Homo sapiens: one gene and its partner. The protein of the gene in region 2 interacts with the protein of the main gene of each other region in a pairwise test. Each region holds a gene or a part of one and is shown on either strand. Other genes may lie near its edges.

Region 1 (3,658 bases), on a different chromosome or scaffold from region 2:
GGAGAAAAGTAAATGAAACATAGAAAAGTGAATAAAATTTAGAAAAAAGTCAAAGAATGTGAGAATAAGCCTAAACATCTAGCAAAGCCAGTTGATGAGGTCCCCTTGAGGAGAGTGGAATGGTATGGAGGGAAGGGCAGGGCAGGCCATGAAATCCTCTTGAGTACTATTCCTTCCTACTTGATTCCATTGCCTATGCTCCTTGATCCTCAAGTTTTGCTTCTGTATAATAAGGTTAATGATATCTGCTCCAGGTGATTGTTATGAAGATTTTTTTAAAAGGTGTATTAAAGATTCTGATGCTCAGTAATTAATGGTCCCTAACCTATACAAGGAGATCCACTAGGGAAACTTGAAAATTCAGTCAGCAATAAGAGAAGCCTTATTACAGAGTCCATTGGCAGAAAGTCTGCATTGAAACGGGTTGGGCAAAAGCAGCAATTTATTCATGTCTTACAAACATGGTCTTACAAACATCATACAGAGCTGGCACAAAAGAACAGACACTGTCTCACACACCATGCTTCCTTCCAAAACACTTCTATTGAGTTACAACATCAGAACAAATCAATTACTGAGTTACACAGTTCTTCAAACATGTATACCTCCCCATTTGGGTGGTGAGATTGGCTAATCAGACAAACAATTAATTTACATGTTTAATACAGTGCAGGATTTGTAACAGGATTCAAGATATTCACATTGATATTGTAATACATTCTAAAACAGTACATTTTCAGAAATGATGAAATTAGGTATTAAGATCTCCCTGCCTGTTTCAATTCCTTTGTTGTTTCTTTTCTCTTTTCTGAAAACCAGTTGCAAATAGTTTTACTCAACTTTTCACACTCAAAAACACTTTAAATTTTAAAAGCTAAAAACTATTTACAAATTATCCATTTTAATTTTAAAAATGTTTGTTGTTGGTTTCATTGTTCCATGTTAAAAAAAAAAAAATCGGCCTCGTCCAACAACCATACCTCAGCTGCTACCACCATTAACTTCTGGCTGCCGTGAAGAATACTTAGAATTGGCCCCTTACAACTTTTCAGAGGTCCAACATATATTCTGTTCCACGGCCCATGATACCAAATGCACATACATAAAATGGCCATTTGACTTCCCCAAACTACACACCTACTACAGTTCATTTCATGTTGCTTTCACAGAGATGCCGAGTGGAGCAAGATGCTGTGAGGTGACTTTGTAGTGGAATGAAGACAATGATTGGGAAATATGCTTTTTTAATCCCAAAGTCATTTTAAAGCACAAAAAAGAGGTTGATTTTTAATCTTTGTACATACAGAATGTAATACATTTTCTTTACATTAGGCATAGTCATAAAAAGCATGTATAAGTTGTTTGGAAAATGCATTTTTCATAGAATTTACAAACACTGTGATATCAAACACATTCTCAAAAACTGCTAAAGTACTGACACAAAACCTGACTCAAAATGTAAATTTTTCAGTAGACTTAATTTCTAACTTGCATATTTAATAATTCAACTGTACTCAAGTTCCACTCATACTTCTCTAAGAACTCAAATATAGTGACATTACTCTCAAGCTAATTCTTTTCAAATAATCACAGGGTGCAGCTTTAATCTAACAGGTTCTGAATGAATTTCAGAACCCTGGCACTGGAAAATGATACAAGACACAAGTCTGTAAACTGCTCTATAGACAACAGCTCAAGACAAATTAGCCTAGAAAAGATAGTGAAACACATTCTTTGTTGTGCTAATTTGACAGCCTAAGCATATTTTGCGTGAACATATGTAAATTATATTAGAATTGCTCTTGAACGATTTTGTAGTCTTACATTTGTTTGTTGGTTAAGTAACACTTTTTATCTGGCAATGTAAAAAATCTTCACAGTCTTTTCAAGTAGCATCTTAATCTTTTCTGGGGGACAATAAATTAAATGAAGACTTAGGTGGCCATGCCGACTCTGGGTACAAACGATGGCCTTAAAAGTACACTTGCACACTATACCTATTTCCTATAAGAAAATTGCACTTCTAACTGGATTTCTAGTTGAAGTTTATTTCTTTATTCACTAACTAATTCAACAATTTCACAAAGGTACATAGGGATTTCTCAGGCCACACTGAGGCTTGTGACAGGCAGTGAATAATCCAAGGCCATGGTTCTTATGTGAGGTTATATTTTACAAAATTTTGACTCACATGTAACCTTAGGGGGGAGAAAAATTATATTTCAGCCACAGTGTTCTCAACTCAGCCCTTTGATAAAATAATTTCTCAGCTTGTTCACTGTCCTTTTGAAATGAATCTGAGTTACTCTTATGATAAAATTGCATCAAATAATTACAAACCAAACTGAAATGACCAGATACTTTTATATGCAGGACAACCATTTGCACATGACAGAATTAATAAATACAAACTGGAGGACATTTTTTTAGTATCTTTGGATTTAAAGAAAAATTGATTTCCCCAACCTGAAGATAAATGGATAAATTTTCACAAGGCAAGGCATACTTTTCGTTTTTAAATCTTAATCACATTAACTTTTTGTGACATGTTCCAATGAGATTGTCACATTTATAATTTGGGATTCTGGCACAGTATTCATAAAATGTCTGACTATTCCTAGTTATATCACTGGTAATCTGAAGGAGATATTGAATATCTTATGAAAATTTATCCAACTCTTCTAATAAATAGGGAAATTATCATAATACACATTTGAAGTTACTTTCTGGTCTACTAATTCAATCCATTTCTAGCAACAACAACAACAACAAAAAGGTAGCTTGATTTCCCAAGCTTGCAATCCAATATAGAAAGAAAGAAAATTTCTCCTTGCCTAGTAAAAACCTTTAAGTTCCAACTCACGGCTAGGATGCTAACCATCACAGAGCACGTGCCACTTGGCAATTTGTCTCCTGGGGTAGTCACAGATCTCTTTCCAGTGCTCTCCACCAGTTCCTTCTGCTGCTGCACCCAAGACTAACTGCCCGATTACCTCATTTCGGGACCCCCTTTCAGAATCCAAAACCAAAAATTCAACACTTATATCTTCAAGGCCCTCACAAGGAATATCAAAGACAAACAGCTCATTGAACACTGCATTGGGGGTGCATTTCTTCACATGAGTCTTCTTCTTGGAGATTCTCTTTTTGGCATGGTACAGGTTCACTTTGACATAGGGATCTGCAGTGGAACATAACAGGCATTACAATGGCATAACTGGGCTGGAGAGCTGATATCAAGATAACAGTGCCCTTAGAGATCATGGCATGCCAATGACATGTGGTTACCAGGAAAATAAGTCAAAACAACAGAAAAATATGGATAAAACTTGGCATTTCTCTTGTCAACAGAATTGAAAATAAGGAAGAATATGGAAAATAAGAGAAAAAAGTTCTAAATTAGAGAATAAGGGAAAAAATTAATGATAGGAAAAGAAGTAACACAAAAGGAAAGAAAATAGAATGTTCTATGGACCCATTCTGATTACTATTAACTTACTCCAGAGAATAGGATAGAAGGAAAAAAATATATTAGACAACATGTAGCTTTACTGACTTGTATGACTTTGGGTGAGTCTATTTCCCTGACTTTTGGCTGTGTTTTCCATCGAATGAGGATTTAGAGTCCACAATGGCAATATTCTTTTTAGTTTTAACT
Region 2 (3,658 bases):
AAGGACTGATTCACATTTAGAAAATTAACTTGAATATATCAAAAATTAAAGATCCCTTTAACTTTTACCCACTGATCAAAAAAGGTAATTTTTAAAATGATTTACCTTGTAAAACAAAGGGGTAGAGCTGCTACAGTCCATCTAGGCTCTATATACTGGTCATCTCATTTCAGTTAGGTCAATTGGACTGCCTCTTCTCTTTGGCAGTCTAAAATCTCATTTAAGGGCTTTAATAAATGAAAAAACTTACCTTAAAACTGACATAACTAAAATATGACCAGAAAGTATACCATAGCATTGATAATTAAATTCAAACTATTGGTCTTGCCATACTTGAGAAACAGATGTATAGTCTAATTATTTACATGTTGCCAAAGATAGAGCCTGCAGATTGGTAGAATCCAAATGATGTGACTCTCCCCCTCCCTCCATCAAATCTAGAAAAGCAATTCTTGAGCAGACACCAATTTAAAGATATTTTTCTACCAATTTAACAATATATTAGGAACCAGCTTGGCAGATTATGAAAAAGGTAAAAATCTCTTACTTTTGAGAATCCCCATGTATCCTTGGGCAACATCTCTGTAATTTAACAGCCTTTAAAACTTAAAATCGTAAGAAAAGACAACACAGCCCTTAGCATTACATACTTTACTTTTCAATCCTTACTATTCACAGTTTGAGCTAGGAATTAACATTTGCTAATCTAGTTGGACTCAGTTTTTCCCACAATGCTCTATTTTCTCACCTAGTTTTGACAAATTTATTCCTTCTCTTCCCAAATACTAGGATAAGAGACAGTCTCAAACTGTTAAGTTGCAAATTTCTTGGGGTTTCTGCTTTATTATTTCCTTGATATCCACAGCAGAAATTCAGAGGTATAACTTCAACATTAACAGGTGAAAAGTTCTACAATGACTTGTTGCACTCTATCACATTAAAATAATTGAACTATAATTTCCATACAACATAAGAAAACTACAGTATTTGGTGACAACTGCAAGATACCTGATAAATAAATATATCAACTTACTATTCATGAAAAGAATGGAGCTGGTTATTTCAGCTTTAAAAGGGCAAAGCAAAAAGACCATTTTCTAGCCATTTAAAAGTTACTCAAAAAATTGATACAATGGAGTGGAAAGGAAAACAAAAAAGATCGTAAGCACCTTTAACAATGTTCTTGCATTCTACTGATATACAAACCTCTGGGGTTTCAGTTGGCACAATCAAGTTCAACTTGTACTAACAGAAAATATTAAAATTCTTCCTATTTTTAATATCAAACAGGGAGGTTAGTAAATTGTTTTCTGATTCTTCTACAAAAAAAAAAGTCTAGAAGACAGAGGGAATGTAGTGTGCACCCCTTATTCTAAGTGATAATTTTTACTTACGAGGTCATAACGAGTGCAAAGGGCTTAGTGATGCATCTTATTCTTTACTTTTGGACAGTAACACCCTCAGATGGTATTTTTATTGGTTTGTTTTATATTCCCCTTTTCCATTTGCCCTTCTGTTTTGAAGTGCTTTTTCTTAAAACTTAAGTTCTTTGCCTCCATTTTCTTATAAACCCAATTTCCTCTTTAGGTGCAGCTCTACTATTTGAAAGGAACCTTTCTGTTGTAATTTACAAGCTGTGAGTAACTGCTATATCATTGTTTCCAAGGATTAATAAACTGAGAAATGATTTAATCAGATATTTGCCACTTACAAAAAGGGAGGCTGACCTTAGGAATTATTTGAATATGGGATAAACTTTTCCTTTTATTCATAAGTTACTTCACATTGTAAGTATACCTTTTTAAATAAGGAGGACACGAAAAAAGAAAGCTTTGTTAACACTCATCTATCTTGTCAATGTTTGAAATCATTTTTCCTTTATATGCTTGGTAAAGTGAGTCTTTCCAAGAAAGCAAAAATCAAATCTGAGTACTTCAAAGCCTGTAAAACCATAAATGAATAAAACCATAGGACTTTGGACATACACAACCAAAGTAGTTTTTGTTTTTCACATACACCATTAAGTTGAACTTCAAGTGCAGTGGAAAGGTACAGCACTTATTTCTGGATCAGTTCACATTCAAATTATAACCCTTTATCTTTTTCTCAAGAATACTACAAACTGACCCTAAACATTAAAGTACACCTGTGCATTAAATCCCTGGGCATTTTGCATAACGTAGAAAAAAAAGGCCAAACATGTTCTAGTGCTCAATGTAAACATTTTAACTATTAATGATTTATTAATTTTCCTTAAAGGTACTTAGGAGTGTGTGTGTCACATATTCAAAGTTAACCTTAGGAATAGCACCATAACCAAAAAAACCCATAAAAATTATTTTCTCCATTATCTCTCAGTTTTATTTCATAACTTGAGAAGCTACCATTGTCGGCTATGCTTTTAAAGACATCAGGTCCATTCTTGCTGCTTCTGATGAAACCAAATCTGATTAAAAACCAAAATACCACTTCTGTATGCAAGGGTCTAACTATTTTGGACTGAAAGAAAAAATGGTAATTGGATGGCCAGTCAATGACCAATTAATGCAGTCCAAATAATCAGAATAGTTCTATTAATGAAGCCTAAACTGTCAAAATATTGTTTTATACCAAAAGAATGTATGTACTTATGAATGTATTCCATATTTATTTATGGATTTTTTTGGTACCTTTTTGCAAATGATGGTAAACATGGAGTTAAAACCTGAGAACAGATTATAAAAGAGAAGGTTAAGAAGAGTTTAAATAAATTAATGGATTTGACATCTATCACCAGTTTTTAAAATTAGCAAAGTAAAAGGCATCCCATTAGTCTTTTCAGTCTTAGTCAAGGACAATTATCATGAATCAATCTGTTTACTATCTACTTAACACAAGTTCTGAGAAGAAAAGCATCATAGTTCTGAAATGGTGATAGCTCTCTAAGCCACAAATGAGAGGAGGTTTCCCACCTATCTCAGTTGATAATGTCCAAAAACATCCTTCCCCATGCATCAGAGTAGAAAGAAAATGTACCTTCTACTATGTCAAATGGAATAGATAACTACAAAATAGGAACACTTCAGAACATTCTCTAACATTAATACCAGTCTGATGCTTCGCCTTGTCTGCCACTTCAAAGATACACAGGAGAAAAGGTTTTGTCTGAAACCAAACACAATTAGGGCTAATAAATAACATTGTCTAATATTGATACCAGTCTGATGCTTCACCTTATCTGCCACTTCAAAGATACACAGGAGAAAAGGGTTAATTTTGTCTGAAATCAAACACAATTAGGGCTAATAAATAACTTACAGGTGGGGTACTGTAACATATCCCTTACCCACTAAATATGTAAACCATTTGAATCAAGTCCATCTTCAGGCACAAACAAGTTAGGAATGGCCATCTACACTGGAGTAGCATAACCTATCAAGTATTTGGTTAGAAAATAAGTGTACTATTTGTGTGATAAACTTTCACTTTAAATGGATTATAAAATTATTTTCCCACAAAACATGACAGTTTCTTATATTTGGACTAGAAGTCACTAATAAAGATACATTTAGTTGCCCCAGCAAAGAATGCTTAGGATTGCACATGGAAGCAGTAAACTAAAACAAAGAGATGGAGAATGACATTTAGCTATTTTCCTATATAGATAAGATTTGCAATT

The links.
Region 1: the proteins of BRWD1 (region 2) and SYT4 interact in a two-hybrid assay, tested with the Homo sapiens proteins (one large-scale study listed by BioGRID and IntAct).

Annotation. Positions count from the first base shown.
Region 1 is NC_000018.10:43,267,468-43,271,125, forward strand, and holds the end of SYT4 (synaptotagmin-4), read right to left. Parts: intron 3,182-3,658; coding exon 2,874-3,181; 3' UTR 425-2,873; downstream 1-424. UniProt on the Homo sapiens protein: Synaptotagmin family member which does not bind Ca(2+). Involved in neuronal dense core vesicles (DCVs) mobility through its interaction with KIF1A.
Region 2 is NC_000021.9:39,191,608-39,195,265, forward strand, and holds part of BRWD1 (bromodomain and WD repeat-containing protein 1), read right to left. Parts: 3' UTR 1-3,658. UniProt on the Homo sapiens protein: May be a transcriptional activator. May be involved in chromatin remodeling. Plays a role in the regulation of cell morphology and cytoskeletal organization. Required in the control of cell shape.